2 separate regions of the Homo sapiens genome follow, and region 1 is linked to region 2. The links come from fine-mapping of genetic effects on gene expression. A gene starts in region 2. The other region holds a variant in brackets. All regions are shown on one strand. Distances are between the middles of the regions.

Region 1 (8,924 bases), 97 kb after region 2:
TACACACACACTAGACTGAAAGGTAAGGGAAGGGGAAAAAAATTGACTCGGATTTGCCAACATGGAGCTCACCATCAACCTTAACAAGAGCAGGTTTGGTGGGGAGCTAAGGACAGCAGATTGGAGTAGACTGAGGAATGAGCTGGCTGGAGTGGGGAAACAGAGACCGTAGCAATATACAACTCGTTTGGGAAGGTTCCCTGTGCAGGAAAGCAGGGAAATGGAGTGGAGCAAGAGGATGACATGGGTCAGGGGAGTGTGTGGGAGTGTATATGTGTGTGTGTGTGTATGTGTGTGTGTGTGTGGTTTCATATTTAATCGACTTTTATCTTAGAATAGTTTTAGGTTTACAGAAAGGCTGTGAGACCATTATAAGAGTTCCCTGCACTCAGTTTCCTCTATTATTTTATTTTATTTTTAGAATAGAGACGGGGTTTCCCTATGTTGCCCAGGCTGGTCTCAAACTCGTGGGCTCAAGTGATCCTCCTGCCTCGGCCTCCCAAAGCGGTAGGAATATAGACGTGAGCCACCGTGCCTGGCCTCCTCTATTGTTAACATTACTATGGTACATAAGTCACAATTAATGAACCAGTATTGGTACCTTATTATCTAAAGCCTGTACTTTATTCCAGTTTTTAGTGTTACTTAATATCTTTCTTTTTCTGTTCTAAGGTCCTATTCAGGATACCACATTACATTTACTTGTCACGTCTCCTTAGGCTTCTCTTAGGTTTTCCCCACTTTTGACGGCCTTGACAATTCTGAGGAGTGCTAGTTAAGTATTTTGTAGAACATCCTTCCATTTGGATTTGTCTGGTGTTTTTCTGGTTGGACAGAGGTTGTGGGTTTTGGAAAGGAAGACCAAAGAGGTACAGTGCCATTATCACCTCCTCACATCACAGCAAGGGTACATTCCGCCGTCATGACTCGTTGCCTTGATCACCTGGCTGAGGTGTTTTGTCAGGTCTCTCCACTGTAAAGTTACTGGTTTTGGGGAGCCAGGAGGGACATCATTTTTGAAGATGAGCTACATTAGGAAACGTATATACGGTGATGGCAGAAAGTTGATGAAGACAGGAAAGGGGGGGATAATTGCAGAAGTAAAATGATTGAAAAGGTGGGATGGGCACGGATGGAATCCACTGCACCATCGAGGGGCTGGCTTCAGACAGAAGCATGGACAGTTCATCGTTTTAAAAGGGGGAAGGCAGAGAAGAGAGTAAAGCCTTAGTCCGTCAGGTGGAATTGGTGGTGGGAGGATAATAAGCAATCTCTAGTCTGATCGCTATTTCCCCAGTGATATATGAGGCTGTCAGAGGTTTGAAGAGATACAAGTATGAAATAGTCACTAGAAGGTCAGACTGATCGATGATCAGTATCAGAAGCTCAGGTGAGATTTATGGTCATGAACTGGCCCATGGCACAATTGTGTTTTCTTCTAGCCACACTGTTCTACTCTAATGGAGACTGAATGGGTGGGTAGTTGAGTTTACCAGGTTGTGGTTCAGCCAGGACGGTATGTTTAAGGGAGTGAGGAAAGTTTCCAGTAGGATGACTATTACGATGGATCACTAAGTTGTGTGAGAAGGAAAGAAAAAATGAATAGGTTCATGATCAATGAAAAAAATGGCAGGCTCAGTGAATTGGAGGTCTTAGTGAGGTCACAGTGGTCAGTGTGATATGTTAGAGAAAGGAACCATGTGGATGGGGCACAGTTGTCAGAGGAGAGGAAACTTACAGTTGAGATCTCACATACATAGGACCCAGCAATGACCACTTCTAGGTATTTTAAAGAAGTCAAGATTTTAAGTCCACACAAAATCTGCACACAAATGTTCATCCTCACCAAGAACTGAAAACAACCCAAATGTCCTTCGACAGGGGTAGATTTTTAAAAAACTGTAATATATCTACACAATGGACTACTACTCAGCAATAAAAGTTAACATGCTTGATTCAAACAACAGCATGGATGAATCTCAAAGGTATTATTCTTTTGAACAAAAGAGGCCAGTACCAAAAGGGCACATTCTATATAATTCCATTTATATGGCATTCTAGAAAAGGCAAAAATACAGGAACAGAGAACAGCTCATTGCTTGCCAGAAGGCAGGGGTGAGGAGAGATGAGGGCGTTCTCTGGAGTATTGGAACTGTTGCTTGTACTGTCTGTGGTGGTGGCTGTGAGAATCCACGCGTGTCTAAGAAACCATAGACCTGTACATCAGAAAAAGAATTTTACATATGTAAACTTAAGACATTTTTTAAATAAAAGCAAATTTTCAGATCTCAGAGGTGGCTGAAATCAAAGAAGGCAAGGGTCTGATGAAGTTGGGGAGCCAGGATGTTGTCAGAGTGGTCCAGGTGGGTGTCAGCGTCCGTGAAAGTAAAGGTGGATGGAGAGAGGAGCTGGGGACTGAAGTCACTGGGGGAAGAAAAAAAGAGTCTGAGGACTGAGAGGGAGAAATGAGTAACCCCTCTACGTCCAGGCCCTGCCTGACACCTGCCTGTAGGCGACAGAAACCAGCCTCAACCTGAGTGGCTGCAAGGAGCAGGGAGCTTGAGGACAGCCAGGCTTCAGTGAAAGAAGGTAAAGGCCCCTTCAGAGGAGGGGAGGCTCTAGGAGACAGAGTTCTCGATAATGCAGTGGAAGGGTCTGGAGGTGAGGAGGGGTGAAGGGAAGCGGATGTGCAGAACTCTCCCAGGACAAGGGCCACGTGGTGACTGATGACCTGGAAGGCTTGGTCTGCAGTGGTGACCGAGGAAGACAATTAGGAGGGACAGCATGTTGCCAAGAGGTCTCTCAGAGGTTCGAGCAAGACCGCCAGCGGGGGCAGGGTGCTGACCTCTTCTGTAGCTGGAAGGGAGATCCAGCATGCTCCCCAGGCATGGGCAGAGCTTTCTGGCCCTCCTCTTGTCCTGCAGCACCTAGGGACCAACATACATGCACACTCACAGAACGCAAAGTGGGTTTGTGTTTGTTTGTTGATTTCCAACAGCAGGTATCAGGGTGGCCAGGGGACAGCTCCCTCCATCTCTGTCCTGATCTTGGCTTTAAACTATGTGGGTGGGCCCAGCACTTGTAGGAACAAAAAAAGAAAACAGCTGCAGTTAGAGAAGACCCATTTGGCCTAAAACAAAGAACTTTTTCCCCATCCTCATTAGCCTGGTTGAGGCGAGGGCAGCTGAGCGTGAACATTGACATCATTTTGGGGGCCTCACTAAAGGCTAAGGCAGTGCTCTAACTAAGACTCAAGTCTGGATGAGAAAGCTGACTCAGACCGGGGTGGGTTGGCCTGCACGGGTTTGGGAGATCCTGGGTACGTGTGTCCACTCCTGCTTAAAATGTGGAGCACCAGCTGTGCTGGCCAGCGTGGGCTCTGCCGCGATGGTCATCATTCCCACCCCCCTACATGCTGTGGACCAACTCTGAGCTCTGCTGGGCTGTGCTCGGGGCATGGGACTGGTCATGGGTCGCTCACTTTCTGACTGAAGAAAATTGGAAAATTCGTGGGAAACTGCCCTCTAAGCCACTCCGAGCCCAGAATCCCTTTCAGGACATCTCCCTGGCCACTCACACCCTCATGGGAGAACTTCTGAAAAAGAGTAGAGGACCCAGTCTCTGCTCAAGTTTCCAGGAGCCAGCTGTGGGTGGCATCTGTAGCTCTCCGGGGGTGGCGGGGGGGGGGGGGGGAGGGGCAGGGGATAAGACTGATTGATCTTTAACTTCCTGGGTCCAATAATGACTCACATGGGTGAAGGATGAAATTCCAGGCATCACAGCAGGCTAGCAAAAGGCATATTCTAAGCAGGAGGAGGTGGACGGGGTCTTCTGGGTATTCCTCAAGTCACTCCAGGTAGACCCATCCCCTCTCATAAATCTGCACTTTTTATTTCTACAAGCAGAGGTGGGGGTGGACTTGTAGCAGTACTCACAGTCAGAAAGTAGAGACAGTCACAGTGACTTTATTATTTATTAGGCTGAGCTTGACCAGAGTATCTCATTCATTCATCACAATAGTCCTGTGAGCTCATAGGATCATAATTATTGCCATTTGGAGATGAAGAAACCGAGACAGAGAGAAATACAGTCACTTTGCCAAGGAAGTGCCTTTGATATTGAGTATGGGAATTTCTGAAAAATAACTTATTAATAAATGAGTACTAGCCTATAAAGTAATCGTAGAAATAATGTGACCCTAAAAATGCATTAATAGAAGAACAATATGGAGAAAAAAGGAATGGGTAATCCCACAATACTATGGGCTAGGAAGCCACCCCGATAATATTATATCCCTCTCTCGGCACCAGGTTTTAATAAACAGGAATGAATTCAAAGAAGGATGACTAAAATGGTGAGGAGACTCTCAACTATGTTACAAACACTGACTAGAAAAGCTGAGGAAGTTTGTACTGGAGAAAATAAGGTTTGGGGGAGCTCAAAAGCCCACCTGCAAATATCTGGAAAAGCAGAAGGTGTAGAACTTTTTTGGGTGGCTCCACAGGATAGAATCAGGCCTACAGGTGCAGGAAAACAGAGTCCAGCTGAACGCAAATACACTCGGAAACAAACTTCACCCTTTCCCTGATGTTTCAGTGTTTACTTGCTCAGAATAACAGAGAAATCCCTTTACTCTGATCACCAGAGAAAGCTATTTAGAACATGATGGGCTAA[G/C]GATAACAGGAAAAGGTAAAGAAAAACTATGATTGCAAAACTTCGCTCACATCTCTGTGTAGATAAAGCTTGGTTGTGAAAGATAGACGGCCCATATGCAACCCAGGATGACCAGAGGGGAACTGGCACTGCCCCTTAACTGTGAGCCGAAAAAATGGTGCAAATTATGGTGAATTTAAATTTTAAAATGTGTTTCTTCCTTAATAGAGATTTAGACTGCATGGCCTTCATGGACTACTGTTTCTCTTTGAGAGGTACTGTGGCATTACATCTGAAGTTAGGAAGAAAGCAAAAAACCCCACAAGTCAGAATTCCCCTCGAGAACCCCTAAGGAAGGTGTGACCACGCTGAAAACCAACACCCCACTTCTCCAGCGCAGTCAGCTTTTCCTCCGGTGTCAGAACAATTGTGGTTTCTTTGGATGAGCACCAGATGAAATAATTGGCTCATATCTAGAGATCACCTTGTAAAGAAAACACATCTTTAAACACAACTATACTCAGCACAGCAAGATGCTCACATCTCCAGAGGGATGGGGTGACTGAGATTCCCTAAAGAAACACAGGATCCACAACTCCTTTCTCATCCTTTCTCAGGGGCATATGGTCATTTCCTGGAATGATCTATTAGCATACTTACCCGTATTCAGAGGTAGATCCAGATTTTGAAGGGCTTGTTAATGGTATGTGCCTTTGCTGGGCATGGTGGCACACACCTATAGTCCCAGCTACTTGGCAGGCTGGGGCAGGAGGATCACTTGAGCCCAGGAGTTCAAATCCAGCGTGGGAAACACAGAAAGACCCCATCTCCATTAAAAAAAAAAATAGTATGTACCCTTGACATGATATAATAAAAATGATATTTTACCTCTATGATTCTTCCCCCTAAAAACCTTTAGGGAATCTCAGTCTAATCATGAGAAAGAGAATCAGACAAATCCCAACTGAGGAACATTCTACAAAAAAACCTCATTAGAACTCCTCAAAACTGTCAAGGTCATCGAAAACAAGTGCTGGGCATGTGGCTCATGCCTGTAATCCCAGCACTTTGTGGGGCCAAGGTGGGAGGATCACTTGAGCCCAGGAGTTCAAGACTAGCCTGGGCAACATGGCAAGACCCTGTCTCTACAAAAATAATTTAAAAATTAGCCAGGCATGATGGCACATGTCTGTAATCCCAGCTACTCAGGAAGCTGAGGTGGGAGAATGGCTTGAACCTAGGAAGTTGAGGCTGCAGTGAGCTGTGTTTATGCCATTGCACTTCAGCCTGGGTAATAGAACAAGAGCTGGTCTTAAAAAACAAGTAAATTTGAGCAACTGTCTCAGTCAAGAGCAGCCTAAAGAGACAATTAAATGAAATGTGCTCTGTTTTTTTTTTTTTTTTTTGAGAGAGAGTCTCACTCTGTCGCCCAGGCTGGAGTGCAGTGGCACGATCTCGGCTCACTGCAAGCTCCACCTCTTGGGTTCAACCATTCTCCTGCCTCGGCCTCCCGAGTAGCTGGGACTACAGGTGCCCAGCACCACGCTCAGCGAATTTTTTGTATTTTTAGTAGAGACGGGGTTCCACCGTGTTAGCCAGGATGGTGGAATGTGCTTTCTTAAACAGGATCCTATAATAAAGAAAAGAACATTAGGTAAAAACTAAGGAAATGTGAGTAAAATACGGGCTTTAGTTAATAATGATGTATCAATATTGGTTCATTAATTATAGGGAATGTACTATACTAAGATGTTAATCATAGAGAAAAACTGGGTGTGAGGCATATGGTAATTCTTTGTATGATTTTTGCAATTTTTCTGTAAATCTAAAACTATACTTAAATAAATGTTTTTTCAAACTATGCCAGATGAGAGCAAGGAAAACACAGGAGGGAATACAAAGCTAAGAAAAGGTAGATAAATGAGTAAATCTAAGTGAATATTGACTGTTAATAATTGTAGGGTTTAAAATAAATGTGGAATGAACGTATGTGAAAACAATGGCACAAAAGGTGAGAAGAAGTACATGGAGTTAAGTGGCTTTCAGTCTTTGCCTTGTCTAGAAAGTGGTCAATGTGGACGGGTGCGATGGCTCACGCCTGTAATCCCAGCACTTTGGGAGGCCGAGGCAGGCGGATCATGAGGTCAGGAGATCAAGACCATCCTGGACAACATGGTGAAAACCCGTCTTTACTAAAATACAAAAAATTAGCCAGGTGTGGTGTCACGCGCCTGTAATCTCAGCTACTCAGAAGGCCAAGGCAGGAGAATCCCTTGAACCAGGGAGTCAGAGATTGCAGTGAGCCAAGATCGCACCACTGCACTCCAGCCTGGCAACAGAGCAAGACTCCATCTCCAAAAAAAAAAAAAAGAAAAAGAAAGAAAGTGGTCAATGTAATTATTTATATTAGATGCTAATAAATCAAGGATGCATGTTGTAATTACTAGAGCGATCATTAGAACTGTAAAATAATGTAACAATGACAAGCTAATAGAGCGGGGAAATGAAATCTCAAAAAAAAAAAAAAAAAAAAAAAAACGTGATTATTCCAGAAAAAGGCAAGAAAGGAGAGAAAAAGAAACACAGGGAGGTTGGATAAGTACAAACCAAGTAAGATGCTAGCTTTCAATCTAAATATATCAGTCATTGACCAGGCGCTGTAGTTCGTGCCTCTAATCCCAGCACTTTGGGAGTCTGAGGCAAGAGGACTGCTTGAGCCCAAGAGTTTGAGACCAGTCTGGGCAACAAGGGAAACCCTATCTCTACAAAAAATTAAAAAATTAGCTGGGCATGGTGGTGCATGCCTGTAGCCCCAGCTACTCGGGAGACTGAAGTGGGAGGATAGCTTGAGACCCAGAGGTTGAGGCTGCAGTGAGCCATGATCATGCCACTGCACTCCAGCCTGGGTGACAGAGAACCGTGTCTCAAAAAAAACAAATATATCAGTAATTAAATAATATGAGTGGGGTTAAATATTAATAGTTCCATTAAATGACAAATATTACCAGACCAGGTTAAAAGATATATAAAGACTGCTTACAGGAAATATGCCTTATAAATAAGGATACAGACAGGAGACAGTGAAAAGACAAAAAGAAACCATGCAAACACAACTCCCTCCAAAAAAGCTGGTGTAGCATACTAATATCAAATAGGTAGACTTTGAGGAAGAAGCATTAACCAAAATAAAGAGTGACTTTTCATAATAATAAAAGGGTCAATACAATAGGGAGGTTTCATAATTCTGTATTTGTATGTACCTAATAAGCCTCAGGAATTAATACTACCACAAGGAAAACTAGAAAATCTATAATCATAACAGGAGATTTTAACACATCTCGCTCAGTAACTGATAGAACAAGCAGAAAAAAAAGTAAATGAGGATCAAGAAAATGAAAAGACAAGCAATAAAAGGGAGAAAATAGTTACAAATCATATATCTGCTAAGGGACTAATATCCAGAATGGATAAAGGACACTTACACCTCAACAACTGAAAGGAAAATAACTCTATTTAAGATTCCTCCAAATATTCCTCCAAAGAAGATATACAGATGGCCAATTAAATGTATCAAAAAGACACTCAATGTCATTACAGACATGCAAATTAAAACCACAATAAGATACCCCTTCACACATCACTATGCTGACTAAAATTTAAAAGATGGGCAATAAAAAGTGTTGCTAAAGATGTGGAGAAATAGAAACACTCATACATTGCTAGTAGAAATGTAAAATGGCATGCAAAGTCCTTTGGAGAACGGTCTGGCAGTTCCTCAAAGAGTTAAACAGAATTGCCATATGACCTGCAATTTCACTCCTAGATATATACTCAAGAGAACTGAAAACATATGTTCACATAAAAACTTATATACAAATATTTACAGCAGCACTATTCATAATAGCCCAAAAGTAGAAACAACCTAAACATCCATCAGCTGATAAATGAATAAACAAGATGAGGTGTAGACATACAATGGAATATTATTCAGCCATATAAAGTCATGGGAGTACTAATACATGCAACAATATGAATGAATCTCAAAACCATTATGATAAATGAAAGGTGCCAGACACAAAGGCCACATATTACATGATTCTACTCATGTGAAATGTCCAGAATTAGTAAATTCAAGGAGTAAATTAGTAAATTACTCCAATGTCCAGAATTACTCAATTTAATTAGTAAATTAGTGATTGCCAAGGGCTGAAGGGATAAATAAGGAGGGTTTCTCTTTGACGTGATGCAAATGTTCTAGAATTAGTAGTAAT
Region 2 (8,924 bases):
AGCAGTGGACATGGCTGGGACTCCAGATTTTCTGGTTGTTCACCACCACCAAATTCTTACCACTCCTGTTGTTTAGGCTATAAGATTTTGCTCTCGATTTTCAAATTTAAAAATGTTAAGAGCATATAAATTGTACATATTTACCAAATTAAAAATTGGGGGAGGAAAAGGAATTACCATGTCAAAAGATACCTGATTTTGGAAGCCTTAAAACGTGTGTATTCAAAATCTGGGAAATGCAGTATGTACCCAACTGAACTATGTCCTCTTGGAGGGAAGGAAACCACCAGTGCCCTCTTCCACAGACTGATGTCTTATGCTTTCCCGGAGGCAGCAGAGCACATTGGCCCTGGACCAGTGACTCTTTCACCATTGGTTGAATGACAGTTACAAATGCACAACTCCCTTCAGAGGCAAAACTTCATTCCTAAGCCTAGCAATGGAAGATGTTAGTCTCCAAGTCATCAGTATACAGGTGTGAGGAATGGAGAAGCTGGGGTTCTTTAAAACTGCATCCTTCTTACCAGCAAGCACTTAGGAATTCAAGGAGGAAAAAAAGTTTGACTCTTGCCTCAAAAAAAAAAAAAAAAAAAAAAAGAAATCACAGAACTCTTTTTGAAAGATGACAAATTCTAGATTTGTGGGGTCAAAAGTCACAACATTTAAAAGAAGATACAGCACATGTCTGTGTGGAATATCTCACGACATTGGCCTAAAGCCAAACACAGGGGGCATAGTTTTCTGGACCTGGAGTTCAGTGACAGGGAGTGTGAGTATAGATTTTGTGAAGTCACAAAAGGGGCTGGTTTCGTTTGGATGGAGTAACATGCAAGTGTGAGGGAAGGAGTGACTCAGGCAAGGCTTTTCATAGAGAAAGAGTCTCTGCCAGCTTGTCCTCTCTCCCATCTCTGCTCCTTACCTCCCCTGCTCTCTCCACCCCGAAACCAACTAAATAGCCAGACAAGGGTCAGATGGGTATTACGTGAGATAAGGCATGTGGCAGGACAGAGGCCAGTGTACTTGCATGACTCTTAAAGGCCTCTTTTGCCTCACCCTGGTCCCAACTCCAATATGTGACAATGCATTGGAAGTTGTAAGGTACTAATGAGATAGCCCATCCTTCCAAGAGCTGTTCCTGTTAGATCCCATCCATTCCAACCTAATTTCCAACTGCATCCTGGAACATACTGTTACTTCGATGGGAGTACTGAGGCCATCTTTCTTCCACCAGCCCACTGCATCCCAGGTGCCTGCTCTCTGCCAGGTTTGTAAGTTCACACTTTATCTCTATCCCATCCTCCTGAGGGCACACCCTACAAAGAAAAGAGGAAGCAAGAGAATCAGATTTGTCCCTTGTCAAAACAAATAGGTGTTTCACTGGTGCCACAGCTTTTGTTCCCAAACCATCCAATACAGGGTTGGGGGGCAGGTAGGGAGATTTGCTGGGAGGTGGGCAGTTTGCTCCTATTTTAAGCAGCTTGGGAGCTTTGCCTACCGGTGTCCTCTGCTGCCCTCTGTGGCCACAACATCAGTGTCTCTAAAGACACCCCTCTGAATCCGGGGACCCAGCTCCCCATCCCCCACTCACTGCCCCAGCATCACCTTTCAAAGTTTTTCTCCTCTAGTTCTCCACAGGCTCTAAAAAGTAAAATTGGATGCACCCTAGCCACAGCCTGCATCTGGTTTACACTCTCAGCTCCTTCCTGCAAAGGTTATTGAGCTGAGTCCTGGAAGAAATCTCAGGCCACCCGGCTCTGCTCTAAGCAAGGCTGGGTGCAACCCTTTTGAGAGTTATTATAATGAGTTTTTGGTGTATCTCAGACACTGCCAAAATCCCGGACTTGGCAAGGTGCGGTGGCTTATGCGTATAATCCCAGCACTCTGGGAAGCCCAGGTGGGTGGATCACATGAGGCCAGGAGTTCCAGACCAGCCTGGCCAACATGGCAAAACTCCATCTCTACTAAAAATACAAAAATTAGCCGGGCATGGTGGTGCACATCTGTAGTCCTAGCTACTTGGGAGGCTGAGGCAGGGGAATAGCTTGAACCCGGGACGTGGAGGTTGCAGTGCGCCAAGATCGTGCCACTCCGCTCCAACCTGCGCAACAGAGTGAGATTGTCTAAAGAAAAAAAAAAAATCCCAGACTCAATGCCAGCTGTTTGTGTTAGCCTGGGGATCCTTCACTTATAGGGTGCAGTCTGGCCAAGAGGAAGGAGCTATATAACATGGTTGATGGAATTTCTAACATTTAAGCTCAGGGGTACATGTGCAGGATGTGCAGGTTTGTTACATAGGTAAATGTGTACCATGGTGGTCCACTGCACAGATCATCCCATCACCTAGGTATTAAGCCCAGCATCCGTTAGCTATTGTTCCTGATGCTCTCCCTCCTCCCACCCCTCACCCTCTGACACGCCCCAGTCTGTGCTGTTCCTCCCATGTGTCCATGTCTTCTTAGGTTGATGTGGTCTTGAGTGACCCCTCCTTGCCTTTCCTCTTTAAAAACAAGATCTAAAAGGCTATGTTCTCTATGGGTTGGAGGTGTTGCCTCGATCTGTCAAGCACAGTCCAGGACTCAGAGGCTGTTGTGGTGAACTACTGTAGGCACCTGGAAGCCACCAAGGTGCCCTTTTCCCGCACTCTAGTCCCAAGTGAGGGAAATAAGCCTATGGTTAAGGGAGAACTATCTACCAATTTGAACTCATTAAAATACATAAATGTGTCCACTAGAAATGGCTGGCTGGAGAAGCCCAGTACCAAATCACCCCGTTCCTGAAACCCACCAGCCCCATGAAATAGTTCGCTAGAGAGAGATTTGCAATCTTTGAATTCGTTGACTATCAACCTGTATAGGTGCTCCGTGCCCCGAGATCTGAGAAAATGACAAAATACGTCTACTTCCCGGCCGGGCACAGTGACTCACGCCTGTAATCCCAATACTTTGAGAGGCCAAGTTGGGCAGATCACTTGAGGTCAGGAGTTTGAGACCAGCCTGGCCAACATGGTAAAACTCCCGTCTCTACTAAAAATACAAAAATTAGCTGAGGGTGGTGGTGGGCGCCTTTAATTCCAGTTACTCCGGAGGCTGAGCCACAAGAATCGCGGGAAGCGGAGGTTGCAGTGAGTCGAGATGGGGCCACAGCACTCCAGCCTGGGCGACAGAGTGGGACTCAGTCTCAAAAAAAAAAAAAAAGTATTTCCCAATTCTTCGTCAGTTTTTGCCCTCTCCCCACTTCGCCTTCTCCAGGCTCCTGAAAAGTATCTCCCCCAACCCTTTCTGTGTACACGGGGAAAACACGTGTTCATTTTTATTATGGCGCTGAAACCTACCCTTCTCTTCAAATCGCTTCTGTAGATCGTTCTAGTATAAAATGTGGCAAGAGGCTAAAGGGAGAGATATAGACCAGTTCTTTGGCCCTCGCTTTCCAACTTCAAGTTACACCTGTGAAACTCATGGGTCCTTCCACAGCCTTCAAAAACTAAGGGCGTCCCCTGTCCTCTCCCCAGATGTCCCTTCCCCATCGCCGGTAGCGAGTGGGAGACAGCTCAGCGCGGGGCAGGGGAGCACTGGGCCCGGAGATGGAAGGCAGCGTCAAAAGCGCCGCTGGAAAATCCCTGAGCGCTAACCGTTGCCTGTGTGAGCCCTTAAATCTACAAATTTCCAACACCTGTAGCCTTTGGGTTTCCCAGGACTTCCATCGACCCTGGCGGCAGAGAGGGCAGGCCTGAGATGCAGTGACTTGAGGGCACATGGCCAACTCTTGTCACTCCAAGATCACACTGGGGAACCAGACTGACTTCTCCAATTCTGAACTCGCCCCGGCCTCGGGCGGCTCAAAGGGCCTCCTCTGCCGCATCCCCGCCAAAACCAAACCGCCTGGCACAAGCCGGTAAGCAACCACCCTGCTGGGAGAGGGAAGGAAGAGTAGGCGCAGCCCTAGATCAATTTCCTTGCACTGCTTCTCCCAGACGGTCAAGTCAGCTGCGTCCCACCGAAAAGGGCGCATCGCCCACGCCCGAAACGCAGCCGCTGGGGGCCGAGAAATTATCCCCACCTGGCCCGAGGGCCAGGGACGCAGGAGCGCAGCAGCGTGGAGGGGCTCCGCGCTGGCCCGGCGCTGCCCGCGGTCCTGCCCTCGTTCCAAGGGCACGGCGCCGGTACGAGGACACCGACGCTGTGGCGCAACTGCCGTCCCCCGCAGCAATCCCGGAGCCCGGCTCCCGGCCGCCCCTCGGCCCTGCGCAGGCTGCCTCTCCCCGACGCGGAGTCCCACCCCGCTACCCGCCGCCCAGACGACCTCATAAACAAGTCCTCGAAGTGCGGAGGCAGGAGGCGGGGCGCAGCGCGGGGGCAGGAGGCGGGCCAGGGTCAGGGCAGAGGCTGCGGCCGCGCGTCCCCATTGGCCGGGACGCAGTGAGCCGCCCGGAGCTCGGCGCGGGCGGGGCCTGCCGGCGCGTGCCCGCCCACACACCCGCGCCGGTGCCCGCCCCCCGCCCTCCGCGCCCGCCCCGTGCCCGCCCCAAGCCGGCCGACGGAGTTTTTAAAGTGGGCTGCCGGCCGCGGGAGCTTTACACTCGCGAGCGGACCGCCACACGGGTCCGGTGCCCGCTGCGCTTCCGCCCCAGCGCTCCTGAGGCGGCCGTACAATCCTCGGCAGTGTCCTGAGACTGTATGGTCAGCTCAGCCCGGCCTCCGACTCCTTCCGACTCCCAGCATTCGAGCCACTTTTTTTTTTCTTTGAAAACTCAGAAAAGTGACTCCTTTTCCAGGGAAAAAGGAACTTGGGTTCCCTTCTCTCCGTCCTCTTTTCGGGTCTGACAGCCTCCACCCACTCCTTCCCCGGACCCCGCCTCCGCGCGCAGGTTCCTCCCAGTCACCTTTCTCCACCCCCGCCCCCGCACCTAGCCCGCCGCGCGCCACCTTCCACCTGACTGCGCGGGGCGCTCGGGACCTGCGCGCACCTCGGACCTTCACCACCCGCCCGGGCCGCGGGGAGCGGACGAGGGCCACAGCCCCCCACCCGCCAGGGAGCCCAGGTGCTCGGCGTCTGAACGTCTCAAAGGGCCACAGCGACAATGACAGCTGACAAGGAGAAGAAAAGGTAAGCGGGCGTCCGGGCCGATCAGGGGGCCGGTCCGAGGCCAGGGCCGGGCTGCGCGGGGCAGGCGCGACCGAGAGTGGTTGGGAGAAGAGTGCTGAGAGGTCTTCGGAGCTCGAGGCTCGGTTTGGAGGGCTGTGAGGGGGAGAGCATGTGCCCGGTTTGGGGGCGCGGATCAGCAGCTTTGCAGTGGAGACTTCTGCGGCTCGGAGGAGTCGGGGATTTGCGCGCACGGCGAGGCCAGGAGGCCGAGGGAGATGGCCTGGAGGTCGGAGGTGCTTCCGCGGTGCCTTTGAAAATCTCCCAGCCGCCCCGCAGCAGATTACCGTGGCCACCGGCGCTTGGAAATGTTTGTGGGTGCATGTCCTCGACTTTCTCTGGTCTCTCATTTTGGGGCAGCATCCACGTCTCTATTTTTCTCTGGATTCGCGGAGTCCTTCCAAATGCGCTCCTGTGCCCGCGCCGCGGCCCAAGTGGGCAAAGGGGGGCGGGAGGCGGAGAGCGGCTCAGGGACACGATCCTACCGAGGAGCCAGGACCCTTCAGAGCGCCCCGCTGCCGGGCTCCAGACCCCACCGAAGGTTGGAGAACCCACTTCCTCGTGCCGCACCTTGACTCTGGGGAGAGTAGGTAGTGAGTGACCTGGATTGCCCTGCGGGGGCAGATGGTTCGGTGTGTAGGAAGCGGACGGCAACACTGGATGTCCCTGGCAGGTCCGGGTGTCTGTCTCCGAAGAGGACAGAGAAGGGCAGCCACGATCTGCCCGCCTGCCCTCGCGAGCCTCTCGGCACTGGGTGAGAGGCAACTCTGGCCATTTCTTGCTGCCCTCTCGCCCTCTCCCGGCCGCTCCCAGTCCAGCCGGGCCCGGCGCTACCCGAGCGAGGGTTCGAGCCCTCTGCGCGGCCGCGCAGAAGCAGGCAGGGCCTCAACTTCTGCAAATGTGTGCGGCTCGCCGCCTGTCCCCTTTCTCCTCCTGTCTCCACCCGTGCGGCCCCAGTGGCCTGGAGCTTCCAGCCCCGCGCTTGGCCGCGGCTTGGCGAGGCTATGCTGCGGGAAGCTGGAATCCAACGCGCGGCCGGCTGAACCGCCTGAGCCGCGGGAAACCAGCGGCGGAGCGGCGGTATAGAGGTGCGAGGATGAGGAGGACCGACTCGCTAAGGGAGGGAGGTGACTGGCCGGGAGGGCTCACTGCCGAGGTTGATTTGCTCTTGTTCCAACTTCCACTACGGGACTGGAGCCAGAAACCGTGTATCCTCCGGTCGAAAGCAGCGGTTCCCACCTCGGGGCACCGATAAGGATTTGATAAACGGGAGCGAATCGCGCCTGTCCTGGCTCGGCGCCCGGGCCCTTCACTGCGGGATCGCTAGGGGAGGGGATTGGGCCCTGCTCCCCTTTCCTGGCCGTAGTCCCCCCTTTCTCGTCACCGTCGCGCCCTCAGACCCAAGACAAGTGAGGGAGCCCTGAGACTGCAGCCGGCACATTCCCAGGGCCCTCGGAGCAGTCCTGGGGTTCCATGTCTTTTGAAGGCAGCAGAGCAAGGAAAAGACTCTTAAGATTCCAGTGCGTTTTGTAAAAACCAATCATAATGCTAATAATGACTGAACCATCGAAAAGCAAAGTTATAGACAGCGCCTGCAGACGCTTTCGGGTCCGGAGCCGGGGAGGGAACTTGTGTATTTTACAACTGCGATGCCTATCGGGAATGTGGCAATCGCCGAGGTGGGGCCTGACAGTAATCTTGACAAATGTGTGAAGTGTCAGCTCCTCCTGCGCTCCTTAGCGCCGGGTTTTGTGCAGTTTTGTACCGTATATACCGAGAAACTTGGGAGCAGGGGAAAAATGATTTCGACACACCCAGCTACAGTACCTGGTTCGTTAGCGGACTGTTGGAAAGAGAGAAGAAGCGGGAATGGGAGCGGGAAGAACGTTGCGTAATTAGACTCCCAATTATTGGCGAGAGCGGCCGCTTTAAGAACCACTGTGGGGACTGCCTGCGAAACGCCTTGGAGGCCGCTGTGTGAGCTGCGGCTCCGGGCTGGTGGCCACGCGAGGGTGTCCGCCCTCTTCGACCTGCCTGGATTTTTGTGCTGCAGAATGGCAGGGCAAACAGCGTGTCCTTCACCATCTAGAGCCCCTTAAGGGGTTGTCCAATTCCTATTGGGCTAATCAGTTTGAGACTCATTTACTTTTCGTGCCTGGGTCTGTTTGCTGGCTGCAGGCTTCTTTAGGGACCAAGATGTAATTAAAATATGTGAACCAATACATTGAAAGTTGGTGTTGTCATGTAAGTGACTGCTGTAGCTTTTCTGAGTGCCTCACAAGGGCGATGTGACAGTGAGGGGGCTCTCTGCTGATGATTCTGCCCACTAGTTCTTACATTTTGTGTTTCTTTGGTTTAGCAGAGCAGTTTCTTCCCCCAAATGCAATATGGGCAGAACATTTGGAATATTCGTTCTAACAATGGCCCGTCAAGAAGTGGGCAGATGATTTTGTCCCAGAATGTTCACACGTCGATAAATATGTTAATGTTTAATAATAAAGAGTTTGCTTTCTAAATGTTAGTTGGCTGGGTGTCCTTGATAGTACCAGTTTTGGTGGTAGTGGGCATTTGCGGTGACATCACAGATGTCAGAAACTGAAGCCTGGTGGGTGGGGGTACTGCACTTTCACTCACCTTTTTGTGCACGCATCTATCAGGAATGCCTGAGTCCTTTCACTGGGAAAAAAATGTGGAAATTCTGGGATTCACGGGGTTTGAGGAGTGGTTCAGGCAAATGTAAATGAGATCCTTGGATAATCAGGGATCAAAGTCCAGTCCCAAAGCCAGACCTAGGTCCAGACACCTTCCCAGAGTGCTTATACAGTAGTGCTCAGTACAGGGCTAGCGTGGAAGGGGAATTGGAGACACCTGGATCTCCAATCTCCCCCTCCTTCTGACAGCTGGACTTAGTTGTTCCTCTTCTAAAATCAAATCAAACTCCATCATTATTCCAACTCTGAAGGGAAAAAATATTGCTGGACAGTTTCTCTCAATTTAAACATATATTTTAAATAAATATTCCCTCCACACTTGATATGTTTCCATTGTATTACCAGCAGCGCAGGATGATACAGAATTGATGTAACACATTGTTGGCTTGAGTATTTAAGTTTTAATTCATACAGTTTTCATGAAGTTCAAAAGAATGCCATCATTTCAAGTTTTTTTCAGTGGTGCTTATAGGGAGCCTAGAATTATTTTATAAGAGACCATGGAAATCATCTAGTCAGACTTTTCTCTTTCTGGATAAGGAAACTGATGCCGAGAGAGGTTAAAAGACTTCTCCGGTCACAAGGAAAATTAGTGCTGATAAGAGTCAGGGCTGGTCGCGGTGGCTCATGCCTGTAATCCCAGCACTTTGGGAGGCTGAGGCTGCGGATCACCTGAGGTCAGGAGTTCAAGACCAGCCTGGTCAACATGGTGAAACCCCGTCTCTATTAAAAACACAAAAAAATTAGCCGGGCGTGGTGGTGGGTGCCTGTAATCCCAGCTATTCTGGAGGCTGAGGCAGGAGAATTGCTTGAACCCGGGAGGTAGAGGCTGCAGTGAGCGGAGATAGCGCTGCTGCACTCCAGCCTGGGCAAGAGTGAAATTCCGTCTCAAAGAAAAAAAAAAAAAAAAAAGTCAGAACCCTGGTTTATTACTTTCAATTAAGTATGTATTTTCCTATTGTTCACAGGAGAGTACCCCAGCCCTGAAATATCTCTAGATAGTGAGGATGATTTCCGAAGGAGTGCCTTCCCCATCACAACTCTCAAACCGCTGAACCTTATAGAAAGGAGATT

The links. PIP is the estimated chance that this variant, and not a neighbour inherited with it, causes the effect.
Region 1: its variant is fine-mapped to the expression of EPAS1 in whole blood (INTERVAL, PIP above 0.99).

The regions. Positions count from the first base shown.
Region 1 is chr2:46,390,268-46,399,191 of GRCh38, forward strand. LINC01820 (long intergenic non-protein coding RNA 1820) reads right to left here and starts at 3,900. Exons shown (of 3, transcript NR_146999.1): 1 at 3,751-3,900; 2 at 2,846-3,078; 3 at 2,026-2,216. RefSeq lists enhancers at 2,896-3,396, 3,397-3,897. The variant G/C (reference allele first, on the strand shown) is at 4,675.
Region 2 is chr2:46,292,835-46,301,758 of GRCh38, forward strand. EPAS1 (endothelial PAS domain protein 1) reads left to right here and starts at 4,573. Exons shown (of 16, transcript NM_001430.5): 1 at 4,573-5,103. The coding sequence starts at 5,078. RefSeq lists silencers at 4,027-4,606, 4,837-5,166.